Linked DNA regions of Homo sapiens. The protein of the gene in region 1 purifies or fractionates together with the protein of each later gene. This does not show direct contact. Each region holds a gene or a part of one and is shown in the gene's direction. Other genes may lie near its edges.

Region 1 (5,498 bases):
CCCAGATGTGTTAGTGGCAGAGCACTTGAGCGCTTCACATAGTCAAGCAGAGAAATGGGAAGAGGTCGGCTTGCTTCTTCCTGGTCTTTGGGTAGTGGTGCAAGGGCTGGGCTGGGCTTGAAGGCACTTGCCACTTCTGCCTTTGGACATCTTGAAGAAGCTTAGGGAAGAAAGGCTCCCGGTGAGTCAGCTTGGAGTAGGGTGACTTTGGCGTAGTGATTCTTGTATTGTTGTTTAACCTATGTTTCTGTCAAGTGGTTTACTGTTGTTCGGTATGTTGGTTGGTTAACAAGGTAGGATGACTCTCTAAAAAGTTGGGTTGCTGAGTCATTCGCCCCAGCTTGAGAGGTAATTAGAAACAGCTGGTGCAAATACTCTCATCACATGCCTCCACTATAAAAGGCCAAAGAGCGCTCTAGAGAGGTTGCTTCAGAAGGCTGAAGGGGACCCAGCTGGGGTTGTTTTGATACAGGTTATCAGTGGGTGAAGTGGAAGAGCACTCTTAGGCAGTGGCCAATAGCACTGAGGCGGGTTTAAAGACGGAGCCTCGTGACCTGCTGTCTGAGAATAAATTTGCGCTGGAGAGAGCTAAAACTGGGGAAGAAATTTGCAGCTAGGGGTAACCCAATAAAAAATATTGTAACAAAAATATTTACTACTCTTACTGGACTTAGTTTCCTTTTTGTGGTTTCTGTTACGTGGTCTATAAGTTTCAAGCAGTGAGCTTAATTTGTGCGTCATAAAAATTTGGTTATGAGTACACAGAAGGGACTTGCTCTGTTTCTCATGGCCCTTGGCTTTTCATGCATACACAAGAAGTTTCAGGAGTCAGAGGAGGGTAAGCACCATATGGGTGGAATTAATAGGTCTCATTGGGTTAAGTCTCGAAAGAGCTGTTTAATAAATAGCCAACCGTAAATACCTGTCTCATTGTCTTGATTATATGACACCACTGCCTTTACACCTGGTGTCATTGCTTCTTGCTTTAAAAAGGAGCACACAACCCAAATATTTATATGAGTCCTCATTGCAAACAAAGTTTAGGAATGGGAAATGTAGAGCTGGGAATTTGGCCCTTTGGTGAAAAAAATGATGATTCCTATTAATGGTAGTTCATTTAAAATATTCTGTATTAGGAAAAACGATTTATTTTGTTCCTTTAAGTCTGGGACTAGAGGAGATTAGAAATCATGAATTTTGTAAGTATTAGGGCCTCCAAGGTGGGGTGCAAGGAGGTTCATTTGGAAGGAATATATTAAAACTTTTAAAAACTTTAATATAAGAAAGACATTAAGCTTAAAGATGCAGACTAACAATCGTGTATTCATATTATATAATGCGCGTGCATGTCCTCCACCCCTTTGTTGCTGGGGGAACATAGCCTGTTAACCACTGTCAGTAACATTCTTTCAACAACCGGAATGCTTTTTCTTTTAACTTACGGTTTCCTCCTAAGAGTTCTTTCAGACTGTTAATATTCCATTTAAGTTTTATTTTATAGGTAGTTCTATTGTCTGTATGTTTTACTTTAGAAGCTTGAGTGTAAATTTCTTGTTACATTGTTGATACTGGGGATGGAAATACAAAAAATACAGAATTTCATTTGATAACCTGTATTTTGAATTTGGAGACAAGCCCAGCGGTTGGTTTAATGTATGTGATCTGAAGTGCAGTGATGTGTAAAAGGGTGCAGTGGAAATACTTGAAGATAATCTACACATTGGAGTGTAATATGTATAGCATATGTAAAAATTAGTTTGTACTGTTACTCCTTGAAGTCTGTTTTTTTTTGTTTGTTTTTTGCCAAGCTTATGTTCTCTTAAGATTAATAAGACGACATATTCAGTAAATCCCTTGGGAAGTGGCATTTATTCAGAATATCAACCTCCTACTAGTGCTGGGGGCGGGTGGCGGCGGTGAGGGTGGTTAGTATTTACCATTCAGTTAAATCTCATGTGCCATGTGCCTTCTACACCCCTGTACTGTGAGAGGTGATGCTCAGAATAACAGTTGCAAAGCCCGTTAAAATTACCACTTGTCAGATTTTCTCTTCATAGTGCTGATCTCTCCATGACTTACGTTTTAGGAATCACCACCTCTCTTCTAATTTTCTGACTAATGTTCTGTTAATGAGAGAATTGTCTTAACCCTAAAACCTGCATTCCCTGAGCATTCTAGACAGAGGGTTTATTTTATGTGGTGGAACGATGATTTTTGAGATTGTTTTGATTTAAAATATATGTCAAATGAGGTAATGTACCGATGGCCAAGGTATGGGTAATTTGAGTGCAATTCGCCAGAATCCGTGCCCCTTGGAGGGAGTAAACATTTCAGGACTGCAGCTAAAACATTGACTTACACTCTCCTGAAGCCCAGGCACCTGGCTTACACAGTGCACTAACATAACTGAAGTCTGGGTTTGATCACTGTACAGTTGACAAAGAAGCAGTAAGCAGAATGGTTAAAAAGTAGTTCTGGAGCCAGACTGCTTAAGGTCAGGTTCTGGTTGTGTCACCCACTTTAAAGCCTTGGGCAAGCTCTTCTACCTGGTAACTAGTGCCTCATTGTTTCCTCTGTAAAACAGGGGTGGTGATAGTAGAATCTGTATCAGAGAGGTTGTTGTGAGGATTATATGCGTTAATACGGGGTAAGTGGTTAGAACAGTGCCAGCTTTATAAGAAACATCAAGTGTTAGGTGTTATTATCTGTTGTTCAGAATCAGGGAAGTACTTAGTTACACAGTAGTGTTTTATAGCTGTTGAGAGCTGAATTGCCGGCATTGATCACAAGTGAGACTGGAAAAACAACCCGGGGAACACTCTTATGTTAAGTCAGTAGCACCATCTCAAACATACATCCAACTTCTGAGGGCAACGAACACAGGACATAGCTTTTTACTTAAAGGAATCTTAACAGTCTCAGCGGAGTGCTTGAGGTAGTCACTAACCAGTTAATTGAAACTGGCTTTTACGAAATAAAAACACTTGCCATTCTTTGGCTAGTCTTTTCCACGTTGTAGTTGACATTGTGGCCTGGCAGCTTTAGTAACCTGTCCACCCCTCCCTTCTTGTTAATACCAGAACAGAACTAGTTTCTCAGTACATATTCCTGGGCCCTATCCAGTTTGTTGGAAACATTTAGAATGTAAATTTGTAAGCTAATTAGTTTCTTCTAAGTATTATGTTTTCTTTAGATGATATGCCTGTACTAATACAGAAAAATTATCCATGAAATGGATATGAATACAATGGACATATTTATCGTATAGCTTTTTGTACCTGTTAGTAATTCAGAAAGGTTGTGTTATTTTGACCATTCTTTCAGCCAGATTGTAAGTTTCCTGATGGTGAGAATCTGTGTCTTTCTGTTTTATCTCCTATGGCACTCTGAATGTGCCTTGGCTGTGTTTCTTTAATAAACTGTTGGTTGCTGAACTGGGTGGTATGATATGCGTTCATTCTAGTTCTGTGATTTTGAAACTTGGGAATGTTTAACAGATTGAAGGAGAGAACATCGTGTGTGGTACCTTGTAAGTGTGCACTGAGTTGAAATTCTTTTGATTATTTAGCTTTCTACTTTCTGTTTTTATCATTGGTGTGATTATTGAGAAGGCAGCTGGAATTAAGTAATTCTAGTTCATCTCCTAAGATAGACATAAAACTTGTCTTGTGACTTATTTTTACCCATAATTGGATTAGAATTGAATTGAGCAAAATATAATTTGGTTTTCTAGATGTTAAATGTCTTATATGTCTAATACTTTGAATATCACTCCTCTAGAACAGGTTCTTTGTTTTATTTAGGATCAGGGACAGGTTAGAAAATATTCAAATATTCATAGGATAATAAAAAACTGCCCTGAAGCAAACGTGAGGAAGAAGAAATAGTGGTAGCCAGAATCTTGGTTGTTAATGACCAGTGTAGAAACACAGTGGGCATGCAGTGAAATTGGCTGGCAGCTGGTTCCTTCTCAGTACGGGCACAATTTAGAAAATGTTACATTAATGCAGCTGAAATTTTGTGCAGATCATGTTATTTGAAAAATAAATGTAAACACTTTTTGCAGTGCCTTAGGAAAGTCATCGTTCAAACTAATATTTTTGTAATAAACTAGTTATTCCCAGTTTTTTTTTTCTTTTTTTTTTTTTTGAGATGGAGTATCACTCTGTCGCTCAGGCTGGAGTGCAGTGGCGCGATCTCGGGTCACTGCAACCTCCGCCTCTTGGGTTCAAGCAATTCTTCTGCCTCAGCCTCCGTAGTAGCTGGAATTATGGGGCACCCCCCACCATGCCCAGCTAATTTTTGTGTTTTAGTAGAGATGGGTTTCACCATGTTGGCCAGGCTGGTCTCGAACTCCTGACCTCAAGCAATCCACCCGCCTTGGCTTCCCAAAGTGCTGAGATTACAGGCGTGAGCCACTGTGCCTGGCCCCTAATTATTCCCAGTTTCTTTCAGGTAAAGTTTTTTTCACTTTTTAAATTTATCATTTTTTTAGATCAGATCAGTCAGTGGACAGTTGCACTCTACTTCCCCATCCCTCATTAAAGTGGAATTACACTAAAAAAGGTTTTCAATTCCTTTGTAGCCTGGACATTAGTAATAGCCTACCTCTAAGGCTGTAGAGTAAATAGTATAGTAAGGGAAATGTCCCTCCCTCCCCCTACACACCTTTTTTCCAGTTATCTCTTCTTTTTATTGATTTGTCTGCCTCCAGGACCCTAGGGAGGTGTTTTTGTCCTAAGGAGGTGAACTCCTGAGGGTCCTATTGAAGAAATAGGGCGACCTATCCACCCAACTTCCTCTTTACTGATATCTTCACATGCTTATTGCCTTATTCATTTTCTAAAGTGTGCCAGCGTCTTTCAGAAGTCAGCTAAATTAGTGCAGTTGCTCATCCATCAGACAGTTTTGTTATAAAATATGTGGCTATAAAAGATTGAATAAATTTATTAGGTTGTAATTTCATTAATGTGTATTTTATATTTAAATATTATTTTAAAAAATGTACAGTGGTTATCTGATCTTGGCCCAGGCCTCTTCAATTTCCAGTGTACCTGATGTCTCTTTATCAACTGTTTTTCTGAGGTGTATCTCAGCCTGGCCTTGGGTACTCCCCTAGGTAAGAGTCATAATTCAGGTTAAAAGAGGTAAGAAAAAAAAAAGCTTTTGGCTTTTGTAATCTTGTTTTTTTTTTTTTCTTTCACATTAGCAAAAGACTGTTGAAGTAGAGAGCATTTTGCCCAGCTCACTCGGATTCTTTGCTGGCATGCCTTCAGTTTCAGTTGTCATCCAGAGAAGTCAAAGGAAATGCTGCTTGGGGATGAGCATGTAATTACGATTAACTTTCCCTACTTCGTTGTCTCTTTGTGGTAAAAGACTGTCACAAGTGCTATTCAAACTATAGGTATTTTTTTTTAGATTTCTAAAAAGTATATTTTGTCTCTGAGGGCCTCCTGTCTTTGGACTAGTTTGTCTTTTTCCAGACCCCAGAAAGGCTG
Region 2 (3,552 bases), on another chromosome or scaffold:
AAAATACAACAAAATGGAACTATAGGAAGAACTATTCTGAAGAGGAATATTTAAAATGTGAGGCACAGGTAGAGAAACACTATAGGCAGTTCATTGAGATTTAAGAACCATTAGCAGCATATGGGTGGTAATTAAAGGCTTATGGTTGGAGCAGTGGTAGATAAATGATATCACTTGAAAAGGGGGCTCTGATGGGGAGAAGGTGACCAGGCATGGAATTAGACACCAACATTTCAGATGCATATGGAAGAACTTAACTGAGAAATAGAAGGCAAACCAGAATGGTGTTAGAAATCAAGTGGAGATTTTATTTTTGTTTTTGTTTTTGTTTTTTTCAAGATAGAGTCTCACTCTGTCTCCCAGGCTGGAGTGCAGTGGCACCATCTCGGCTCACTGCAACCTCCGCCTCCCAGGTTTAAGCAATTCTCCTGCCTTAGCCTCCCTCCCGAGTAGCTGGGATTACAGGCGTGCACCATCATGCCCAGCTAATTAATGTATTTTTACTAGAGAGGGGGTTTCACCATGTCGGCCAGGCTGGTCTCAAACTCCTGACCTCAAGTGATCTACCCGTCTTGACCTCCCAAAGTGCTGGGATTACAGCTGTGAGCCGCTGTGCCTGGCCCAAATGGAGATTTTAAAGAGAAGAAAAGAGATAAGTAATATAGGACATGAATAGTTTTAAAGAAGATAGGGATATTAGTTGCAAAGAAAAGATCTGAGATTTGCTTGAAAACTTCCAGTGAGGATACACATTACAAGGTAGCCCATTTCATTTTAATAACTCTTTTTAAAAAATTATCTTTTCCTGGATTAAAATCTCCCTTTCCAAAATGCCTAGGCCCTCTAAAACAAGTCTTTATCATCTGGTAGAGGGGTGGGAGAGTGTTACAAACCCCTTTATAAAACTGATAAAAATTTACACTGTGTCTTGGGGTGGGGGCGGAATTGCTGTAATGCAATGATTTTTTTTTTTTAACTGAAAAGCTTTGTAGTATAGACCTGGGCCTCCTACCTCAGATGGAAAGAATCAGAAGTACTGGATTAGGCCTAGGGATCTGCATTTTCAGAAGTTTTCCAGGTGACTATGATGTGTATCAGTAGACCTACGCAGATATATACACCCCTGCAGATATACATTATATATCCAGTTTTTCACATATGATGTATGCAGGTATTGGTTAAGTCACCTAAATCTTCTTCAAGCCAAATATTCTTCATTCCTTTCATTTTTACCTCTTATAGTTTCCAGACTCCTTAACATCATGGTTGGCCTCCTCTTAGAATATCATTAAAACTTGGTATCTCAACTATGGTCTGACCCATACATCCCCTTTTTCTAGATGTAAATTTAAATCATACTTATCTTTTGACTTACACTGAGTTTTCTAAAGAAAGGAAGAGCACTGAAAAGCTAGAATGTTAAGGAAAGGCACCATAGGACTTCAGCTGGGCTTTGAAAGATGGGTAGGCAGTGGATAGAAAGATTTGAGAGTGGTTGAACAATAGACTGGACAAACCTGACTGAAGGGGGTCAAAGAGACAGTCAGTGACAGTGGTATGGAAAAACAAGAAATAGATTGCTACATTTCCTGAATGCAAAGCACATTTCATCTTGTAGGTGGTATGTAAGCATTAAAGATTTTTGAGCTAAGATGTGATATCAAGAAGTGACTTTTAGAAGTTAATCTGGTAATTAAAGATGGAAGACTGTTGGAATCACTGAGTTGTGAAGTATTAGCCATGGAAGTAAAAAGAAACAGTAGAGGAGATGCTTCAAAGAATAAGGTCACAGGACTTGTGATTGGTTTGAAATAGAAGTAGAAGGAGCTATTAAATTCACTGTTAGAAAGAGAGGAAAATAGTAGAACCACTGGCAAAAAGAGGGGGGAGTTAAAATGGAGAGTTATTTCTAAAGTTAGGGCGTGAACAGAAGCTTGAGATGTTGGCTTTATCTAGCAAATAATAGTAATGTGGGACTGACCCTCAGGAAAAGGGATGCGATTCAATTTGAAACTTGGAGAGTAAGTTTTATAATTGAAGAATCAAGAGCCAAATACTGAACCTTAGGGAAGATTACTTTGTGGGAAGAGAAGCAGCAGGAAAGAGAACCCACTGTTGTACTGTCAGAAGAGCAATGTGGAGAAGCTTTTCAAGGTGGGAGTTCTGGTTTGGTTTTTAACTTGAGTAATTCACAGTGCACACCCTTATAGACTACATAGACCCAGGTGTGCTCCGTGGCAGCACACACCTCATGCAGTAGATTCAACAGACATGTTGAGCACCTGCAGCTTGCCACACGTTGTCTTTGACATGTTCAAACACATTATCTTACTTAATCCTCAGAATATTTTACAACAGAAATTGCAAGCTGTGTTTTACAGATGAGGAAACTGAGTCAGAGAGAGCTAAAGCATGTTGGCCAAAGGCACAAGGCAATAAACTAGATTCCAAGTCTATTACAGGACAGTTGTCAGGTCATTGAAAAATTGTGCTTGATCAGTATTCTGTTTCTGTTCAGTACTATGATAAATTAGCAATCTTTAGAGGTCATTTAGATTGTGTTTATTCCCTACAGAGCAGGTTGGTGAAAAAGAAAGAAGAAATGGACTCGAAACTGTTGATTGAAATCAATGCAACTGGCAATTCAGGACATCCCCCAAAAAAGGAATATCCCCCTAAAAAGGAATATACCATAGGATTATTATCAGCACAGCACAAAACTTCATTGCAATTTAATTTACTCATTTGTGAAAATACTGATAATATTTATCTTCCAGGATTGCTGTAAGAATTAAATGAAGTGATAAAGAATAACTACTAACAATTACATCATGCTATTATGTGCCTAGCACTATACTGAGCACTTTACAGTTGTGTTAATATAATCCTAATAACCCTAGGAGGCAAATACTAGAATCATCCTCGTTTTACAGATGAGATTAAATAATTTACCCGAGCTGGTAAACAGAGCCAAGATTCAGTCCAGTCCCAGACTTGTTCCTAACCACTACACATACTGCTTCCTTTACTATAGATAATGAACATGAAAGCTCCTAACCTAGTATGGCATATACAAACTACCCTCCATAAATATTAGTTTCCCTTTTGTGACGCCAATTCAGAGTGTGTTCGTTAATGATATGCTACTAAATAAATGAAAAATTTTTATTTTTTTAATTGCTTTACATGAATTTTAAATTTTCTTTCCTAGCTCAATGTCAATTGCTGCAAGCTTAGTGAGTGAAGATACAAAGACCAAGTTTTTGAACAAAATGGGCCAGTTGACAACATCAGGTGCCATGTTGGCCAATGTATTTCAGAGAAAGAAGTAGAAGCAGGAAAGAAGCCCCCAGTAAACACTAAGATGGACCTCAAGCCGACTGGTTCCTTGTACTTGAAGTACTTGCCTTTTTTGTTTCCTCAGTTTTATGTTCTTGCATTATAATTTTATCCTAACCTCCAAAGATATTTGCACTGCTTTTAATTACTGCTGTATATTTGTTGATTTTGGAGTTACAACTGTGGTGATAGAAAATTGAGTTGATGGTCTGT
Region 3 (3,552 bases), on another chromosome or scaffold:
GAATTCGAAGAGTCTGGCAGAAAAGGAAGTGTGGAGTCAAGTATGGCTGCCTGACCATCTCACACAGCACGGTGAGGCCTAGAGGTGGTGGGAGTCTCAGGGCACGATGGACCCTCTTCTTCTGGTGTTCTGAGCAAATAATGTCAAGCCCTCCCTCTAAGACTGGCCCCCAAACCTAGGTCCAGGGAGCTGGAGACCCGTTTGGGAGGACAGATGGGACCTGAAGGCCCCAATCTAGTCTTAGTCTACACTTCACATCCTTGAGGTGCTGCTGGGTGAGGAGAAACACAAATGGAACAGGATGATTATGCCCATTTAACAGAGTGGGAAATGGAGGCCTAAAGAATGTGGAGGGCCAGAGGTAATGCATACATCCTCCGCCCCTAAATTCCCACAGATAAACCGGCCCCCGGTGAAGCTGACCCTGCTGACGTGCCAAGTGAGGCCAAACCCTGAGGAGAAAAAGTGCTTCGACCTGGTGACCCGTGAGTGGTCCCTGTGCCTCTCCCCCACCCACAGCTGCTCAGGGCTTCTCTAAGACACCTGTCAGCTCCCGGGGGGCTTCAGTGAGGGGTCTGTGTCCAGTTCCACACATGGTGTCGAATTGCTGCTACTGCAGACATAAGAATCCTTAGGTCTAGGATACCCACATCACATTAAATGTCAAAATGCACCCACTTTACATAATAAATGTGGCTATTTATACAGAGCATATTTGAGTGGATTTGGGTCATCTGGGTTTTGAAATTATTTCTTTTTTTAAAATTTTACCTTTTTTTCCCAAATACCCAGACTTGAAGGAGATGAAATTATTGTTTCTTTACATTTTCTACTTTTCGTTCTTCAGAGCCTTTGGTGCAGGCTTTGTGTGAGAGCAGACACAGGCTGAGAAAGACCTAGATCTTGTCCTCAGGAAACTCTCTGGCAGGGGTGTGGGGTGGGTACCCAGGACTGTAAGATGAGGGGGCTGTCCAGAAGATGGGTGCAGATATAGCCCCATAGAAGATTAGGGAGCAGGAAGGCCTGCACTGCTGTGGGGAATCAGGAAAGGCTCCTGGAGGAGACAGTATTTGAGTTTAGCCTTGAAGGACATGTAGAATGAAGAGTTTGTGGGGTGGGGGCTTTTGAGGAGACAGGATTAGCATGATGAAAGGCATGGAAGCAGGAGAGTGGGTCTGGCCGGTTTGGCCAGAGTGGAGGGTTCATGTAGCAGAGTGAGAGATGAGGCCTGGAAATCCCTCTTAAAAGTTTGGACCTTATTTCCTGGCAATAGAGAGCCATGGGAGATCTTGGGGCAGGGCAGTGGTGTAATTAGAGCAGAGCCTTGGGCACAACAGTTGGGAGCTGGTACAGGCTAGGGGAAAGGGGAAATGGGAAGCAGGGAGACCAGACAGGAGGCCTGGTCGCCCAGGAGGAGACCAGGAAGGGCCCAGTGGGGTGGTGACAGTTGGTTCAGAGGATGCCCTGCCTCAGAGCTGGGTTCTCTGGGGTTCCAAGCCCTTTGAGACCTCGTCTGAGCCTGGAACCAGGGCTTCACGCAGAGGGAGCTTTGTTGGGATCCTACTTCGGAGGCCAGTTCTGAGAAACTGCCCCTGGTGCTGGCCACTGTCATTCCACTCCCTTCCCACTCCTAGCTTGAGAGTCCGACTTGTCAGGGACACATCTCCATGTGGCCCCAGCGGCTTTGGTGGGGGCTCCCTGGGCTCCGGGAAGGCCAGCAGCATTTCTGTGGGTCAGAAGCCCCCTTCTCTCCCGACAGACAACCGGACGTACCACTTTCAGGCAGAGGACGAGCACGAGTGTGAGGCGTGAGTGCCCCCTCGGCCAGCCCGGCCAGCCTTGTGGGTGGGGGCCGGCGGCCCTATCTCTTCCCACTTGACATCCCCATCCCACCCCGTTCAATCTCCGCAGGTGGGTGTCAGTGTTGCAGAACAGCAAGGACGAAGCCCTGAGCAGCGCCTTCCTCGGGGAGCCCAGCGCTGGCCCGGGGTCCTGGGGGTCCGCCGGCCATGATGGGGAGCCGCACGACCTCACAAAGCTGCTCATCGCGGAGGTGAAGAGCAGGCCTGGGAATAGCCAGTGCTGCGACTGCGGGGCTGCAGGTCGGTCCCCGGGGCCGGGGCAGGAGGGAGGCTTAAGTGGAGGGGAGGGGCTGCACCTCCAGGCTCCAGCTGCTTTCCTCTGCAGACCCCACGTGGCTCAGCACCAACCTGGGCGTGCTCACCTGCATCCAGTGCTCGGGCGTCCACCGCGAACTGGGCGTGCGCTTTTCGCGCATGCAGTCACTCACCTTGGACCTGCTGGGCCCCTCCGAGTTGTTGGTGAGGGCGGGGCGGGGCCTGGAAGGGGCCAGAAGCGGAGTTAGGGGTGTAGTTTCATCCGGGGGCGGGGCTTGCAGGTTGTGGGTGGGACCTGGCCGAGGTGGGCTGGGACAAGCCAGGTAGCGGGTGGTCAGGGGCGGGGCCTGAACCGGGAGGGCGGCCGAGGGGCGGGACTCTGGGGGCTTGGAGCTCCACCCTATGCAGGCTTAACCGCCCGGTCTTACTCCGCCCCACGTCTATTTTCCTACGACTCCAGCTGGCCTTGAACATGGGAAACACGAGCTTCAATGAGGTCATGGAGGCCCAGCTACCCTCACACGGCGGCCCTAAACCCTCAGCTGAGAGTGACATGTAAGGGGATTCTCAGAGAGAGGGGCACCCTGCCTAGGGGATTCTGCCTCCGCAGTGTCCAGGGTCGTAGAAAAGTCTTGGATCAGAAGTCTGGGGAGGCTGGGCGCAGTGGCTCACGCCTGTAATCCCAGCACTTTGGGAGGCCAAGGCGGGCGGATCACTTGAGGTCAGGAATTTGAGACCAGCCCGGCTAAGATGGCAAAACCCCGCCTGTACTCAAAATACAAGAATTAGCTGGGCGTGGTGGCACACGCCTGTAATTCCAGCTACTCAGGAGGTTGAGGCACTAGAATTGCTTGAACCCTGGAAGCAGAGGTTGTAGTGAAACGAGATTGCGCCACTGCACTCCCTCCTGGGCAATAGAGTGAGACTGTCTAAAAAAAAAGCCTGGGGAGAGGGGAGCCTCAGATCTAGACGTCTTCAGGACATGGTTCTGGAGAAAAAGAGAGCTGTATCTCCTGTGGGAGGGCCCCAGGGATCAGCTGGGCAGACACGGTCCATGCTCTGAGATCCTGTGGTTGTTTTTGGTAGGGGCACCCGCAGGGACTACATTATGGCCAAGTATGTGGAGCATAGGTTTGCACGCCGGTGCACACCTGAGCCTCAGCGACTCTGGACAGCCATTTGCAACAGGGACCTCCTGTCGGTACTGGAGGCCTTTGCCAATGGGCAGGACTTTGGACAGCCGCTGCCAGGGCCTGATGCACAGGTGAGAACCCCTCCAAGGGCCACTTATAACCCACCTGTCTAACATATTCCCCAGTTCTTCTCCAGGACCAGCTGTTACTCCCCTCCACCCCACCTCTGACATCTGCTCAGATCTCACCCATCAGAGTGGTAAGTGGGAAAGAGCACAGCTTCAGTCAGGCAGACCTGGGTG
Region 4 (3,552 bases), on another chromosome or scaffold:
ACTGCTGTAGTCCAGAGAGAGGAGAAGGGAGAAGTTAGTCACTGGGCGAGGCAATTGGAGCATGTACACTTAGGACTAGGACTTGTCCCATGGGTAGATGTGTGGCCAATGAAGAAGAGTGGGTAGAGATATTCCAGGCAGGTGAGCTTGTGGGGGAGAGGTGAGGTCATGTGGGAGAGAAGATCGAGTCTATGGAAGGAGATTTTAGAATCACTGAACTTCTTTTATTTTGGTGTCTCCTAGATAGTTTTGTGCCAGAATAATATCCATAATCAGGCCCATATGAACAGAGTGGTCACACACGAGCTTATTCATGCATTTGATCATTGTCGTGCCCATGTCGACTGGTTCACCAACATCAGACATTTGGCGTGCTCAGAGGTGAGTTTTATTGTATTTTTCTCCAGAATACTCTATGCTTGAATATTTTATTCAAGTGTAATTTATTTAAATGTATTCCTTTTCTTACTGTCATAGTTCTACCTTAGTCTTGAATTTCGGTTTATAACTAACATTGAATACCATTTTTGATATACAGTTAGAGAAATTTAAAGTGTATTTTTAGAATTCTCTTAACTATATCCTGTAAGTCCTAGTAATAGTGATGACTGACTTTAATAAGCTATTAATTTTTTCCTATGGAATATATTTTATAATGTATTCCATAGGAGACATTAATAATAAAAATAAAAATAAAAAAATAATTAAAATTTACTGAGGGCTGTGTTCCAAACACTGTTCTGTTTGCACAGATTCTTATTTAATCTTCACAATAACCTACTGAGATAGATATTATACTATTATTGTCCCTGTTTTACATATGTGGAAAGTGAGACAGTTGTTTAGATTCCAAAGTTAGTAAGTGGTAGAGGCAGGATTACAACTAGTGTTTTTAACTAGCTTGCCCAGCTGCCTTCCATAGAGCTCCTTGCTTGCCCTAGAGTAAAACATGCTCTTTTCAAAAATACAACATAAAAAGATATTTATTACTAAGCACGTTGGATTGCTCTTGGAATATGCTCCTAGAGAGAGCGTATTCTGCATATGCATATACTTGGATGTCATTAATTGAAGAGTTAATTAAAATAATCTAAATCTCAAGCCTATACTATATAACTTCGATTATTTCCCTTTCTCTTGAAATTAATATGTAGCCCCCTGCATCTAATTATAATTCCAATTATTTGGAGAATAGACTGAAACCTGAATTTTTAAATAGGTCTCTTTCTTGGGTACTGTGAGAATTAATGCCTTTTAGCTAGTTAAAGTGTGTTAAGTACTTTGAGCTCCTCAGAGGAATGAGGCCATAATATTGAAGAAGGAACAAGAAGTGGGCCATTCTGTTAGCAATGAATTAGCAAAAATGTGGTCAAGCTGCCTGTAGAATCTATGTGGGTAGTTCTAAGACTTTTTCATTCATTGAAGTATAGTAAATCTGAAAATATGTCCTAATTTCAGGCTGTCATGCTCATAGCGTGACCAGTTTGGAATGTTCTTGATTCTTTGTGTTTTGTATTGCTTCATTTTTCATAGGACAATCAAGTCCCTAGAGGAAGGTCATGAACTTATATAGGTTTGAGGGAAGCTCCAAGGGAGATTCGGGCAAGGGTTGGGAGGGGCATATTCTCAAAGTGTCTCAGATATTAATGCATTCAGTTTTAAGGTCACATTGAAACTCAGTTTATTTCAAGAATGCTTTCTTGAAGTACTTTTGGCAATTTCTACAAGTATTTGTATCTTGTAGAGTGTGTAGTTTAACTCTGAGGTCTAGCTCTCTGACTTTTGGTTCCAAAAGAAATTAGTTCTGTCAGTAAAGCTACGCATAAAGTTTAGAAAATTTCCTTTGGTAGGCGATTGAACTTTTCCCCATCTCTCCAGTGTATTTGGCATTGTCTAGCATAGCTCATAGATATTTGCTCTCGTTGTCAATAGAGTTTAAAAAGTCCTTTAAGAAGAAGTGTCACAAATACTCTTTTCTCAGACAAAGATGCTAATTTTATATTCTTTTCTAATTTTTAAAAATTGGTTGATATCATAAAGATATATAGAGCATGAGCGTTTATTTCTTTTTATTTGTCTTCTGTGTGATAGGTTCGAGCTGCTAACCTTAGTGGAGACTGCTCACTTGTCAATGAAATATTCAGGTTACATTTTGGATTAAAACAACACCACCAGGTAAAAACTAATATGAAATCACTTCCCCTCCAGAGTGTTACGAGTGGAAATAATGAATAAAGAAATGAAAAGTACATTCAGTATTTGAAATTTGAAAGAACTTCGTATGTGAAAAGAATACAAAGTATGTACCATTTAAACAAAGTAGATGGAATTTAGTTCTACTTTGTAATTATGGGCAAGCTATGTGACTCAATGAGTGTGTGAGATAGTCTAATAATGAAAAGAGGCCTGGTGCGGTGGCTTATGCCTCCCAGCAGTTTGGGAGGCCGAGGCGGGCGGATCACGAGGTCAGGAGATCGAGACCAGCGTGGCCAACATGGTGAAACCCCGTGTCTACTAAAAATACAAAAAAATTAGCTGGGCGTAGTGGAGCACACCTGTAGTCCCAACTACTATGGAGGCTGAGGCAGGAGAATCACTTGAATCTGGGAGATGGAGGTTGCAGTGAGCCGAGATCATGCCACTGCACTCCAGTCTGGGCCACAGAGTGAGACTCCATCTCAAAAAAAAAAAAAAAAAAAAAGGAGCTAAGATCTTGCATCTGGGATACTTTTCGATGGGGGTGGATAAGGAATGGAAGTGAAATCACAGCATGTCTTACTGTTATTCTAACAATTCTTGACTTCTATTTTGAATCTACCATAGCATTCTGGAGACAAAAGATGTAATCCCTTTCAGAACAGAGAGTGTGTTGCTGCACAAGTTATGGCTATGTGTCAGTGTACCTGTAAAGGCTATATAATGTGATAGAAAACCTTTGGCTTAGCACAGACTTGAGTATGATGAGCTTAGCTGAGAGGGATTTGTGTGAACAAAACAAAAACAAAAAACAAAAGAGAGCTATAAGGCAAGATTATCCTGGTAGAAAGGCTTTGAGATCTGTATTAGGTGGACGTGGGGAAAGAAAGTATAGGACTCATGGATTGATAATGAATGTGAGCAGTTCTGCCTGGGCCTGTGTCCACATTTAGGAGAAAGGCTGGTCAGTCATTTTCTACAGTAAGAGCCTGCTGAGTCAGTTTGTGAAGTATATGAGCATCACGATATCAGTTCCAACTAGATGAAAAAAGATAGGCTTAGGACAACAGGAAGGCCCTTGGTTTTCTGGAGAAGAGAGTAACTCAACTCTGGAGTGGGGGGTGGAAAGTCACAGTGAGCTACTCAGAAATTGTGAACTTAGTGAATGGGAGGGAGAAGAAAAGCCTTCTGCCTGGAAAGGGTGATTACTCTAGACAGTGAGGTGTTCAGCCTCTGCCAGGTCAGCTTAGTGATATGCCAGTGACTTGTCTTGTGCTGCATGTTTTCTGTGCCCTTGAGTCCCTGCTTCTCTGGTGAATTCTGTGTGTTCTGGCTGTCAGTGGAGAGGGTGGAAGC

The links. Proteins that work in one complex are often made in the same cells at the same time.
Region 2: the proteins of BACH1 (region 1) and RELCH purify together in Homo sapiens (affinity purification with mass spectrometry; 2 studies listed by BioGRID and IntAct, with this or other methods). This does not show direct contact.
Region 3: the proteins of BACH1 (region 1) and ASAP3 purify together in Homo sapiens (affinity purification with mass spectrometry; 2 studies listed by BioGRID and IntAct, with this or other methods). This does not show direct contact.
Region 4: the proteins of BACH1 (region 1) and ATP23 purify together in Homo sapiens (affinity purification with mass spectrometry; 2 studies listed by BioGRID and IntAct, with this or other methods). This does not show direct contact.

Annotation. Positions count from the first base shown.
Region 1 is NC_000021.9:29,299,995-29,305,492, forward strand, and holds part of BACH1 (transcription regulator protein BACH1), read left to right. Parts: intron 1-5,209; exon of another isoform or gene 5,210-5,328; intron 5,329-5,498. UniProt on the Homo sapiens protein: Transcriptional regulator that acts as a repressor or activator, depending on the context. Binds to NF-E2 DNA binding sites. Plays important roles in coordinating transcription activation and repression by MAFK.
Region 2 is NC_000018.10:62,302,203-62,305,754, forward strand, and holds part of RELCH (RAB11-binding protein RELCH), read left to right. Parts: intron 1-3,211; coding exon 3,212-3,332; 3' UTR 3,333-3,552. UniProt on the Homo sapiens protein: Regulates intracellular cholesterol distribution from recycling endosomes to the trans-Golgi network through interactions with RAB11 and OSBP.
Region 3 is NC_000001.11:23,435,680-23,439,231, reverse strand, and holds part of ASAP3 (arf-GAP with SH3 domain, ANK repeat and PH domain-containing protein 3), read left to right. Parts: intron 1-1; coding exon 2-71; intron 72-397; coding exon 398-485; intron 486-1,759; coding exon 1,760-1,808; intron 1,809-1,911; coding exon 1,912-2,102; intron 2,103-2,187; coding exon 2,188-2,321; intron 2,322-2,577; coding exon 2,578-2,672; intron 2,673-3,203; coding exon 3,204-3,381; intron 3,382-3,552. UniProt on the Homo sapiens protein: Promotes cell proliferation.
Region 4 is NC_000012.12:57,951,515-57,955,066, forward strand, and holds part of ATP23 (mitochondrial inner membrane protease ATP23 homolog), read left to right. Parts: intron 1-243; coding exon 244-381; intron 382-2,091; coding exon 2,092-2,175; intron 2,176-3,552.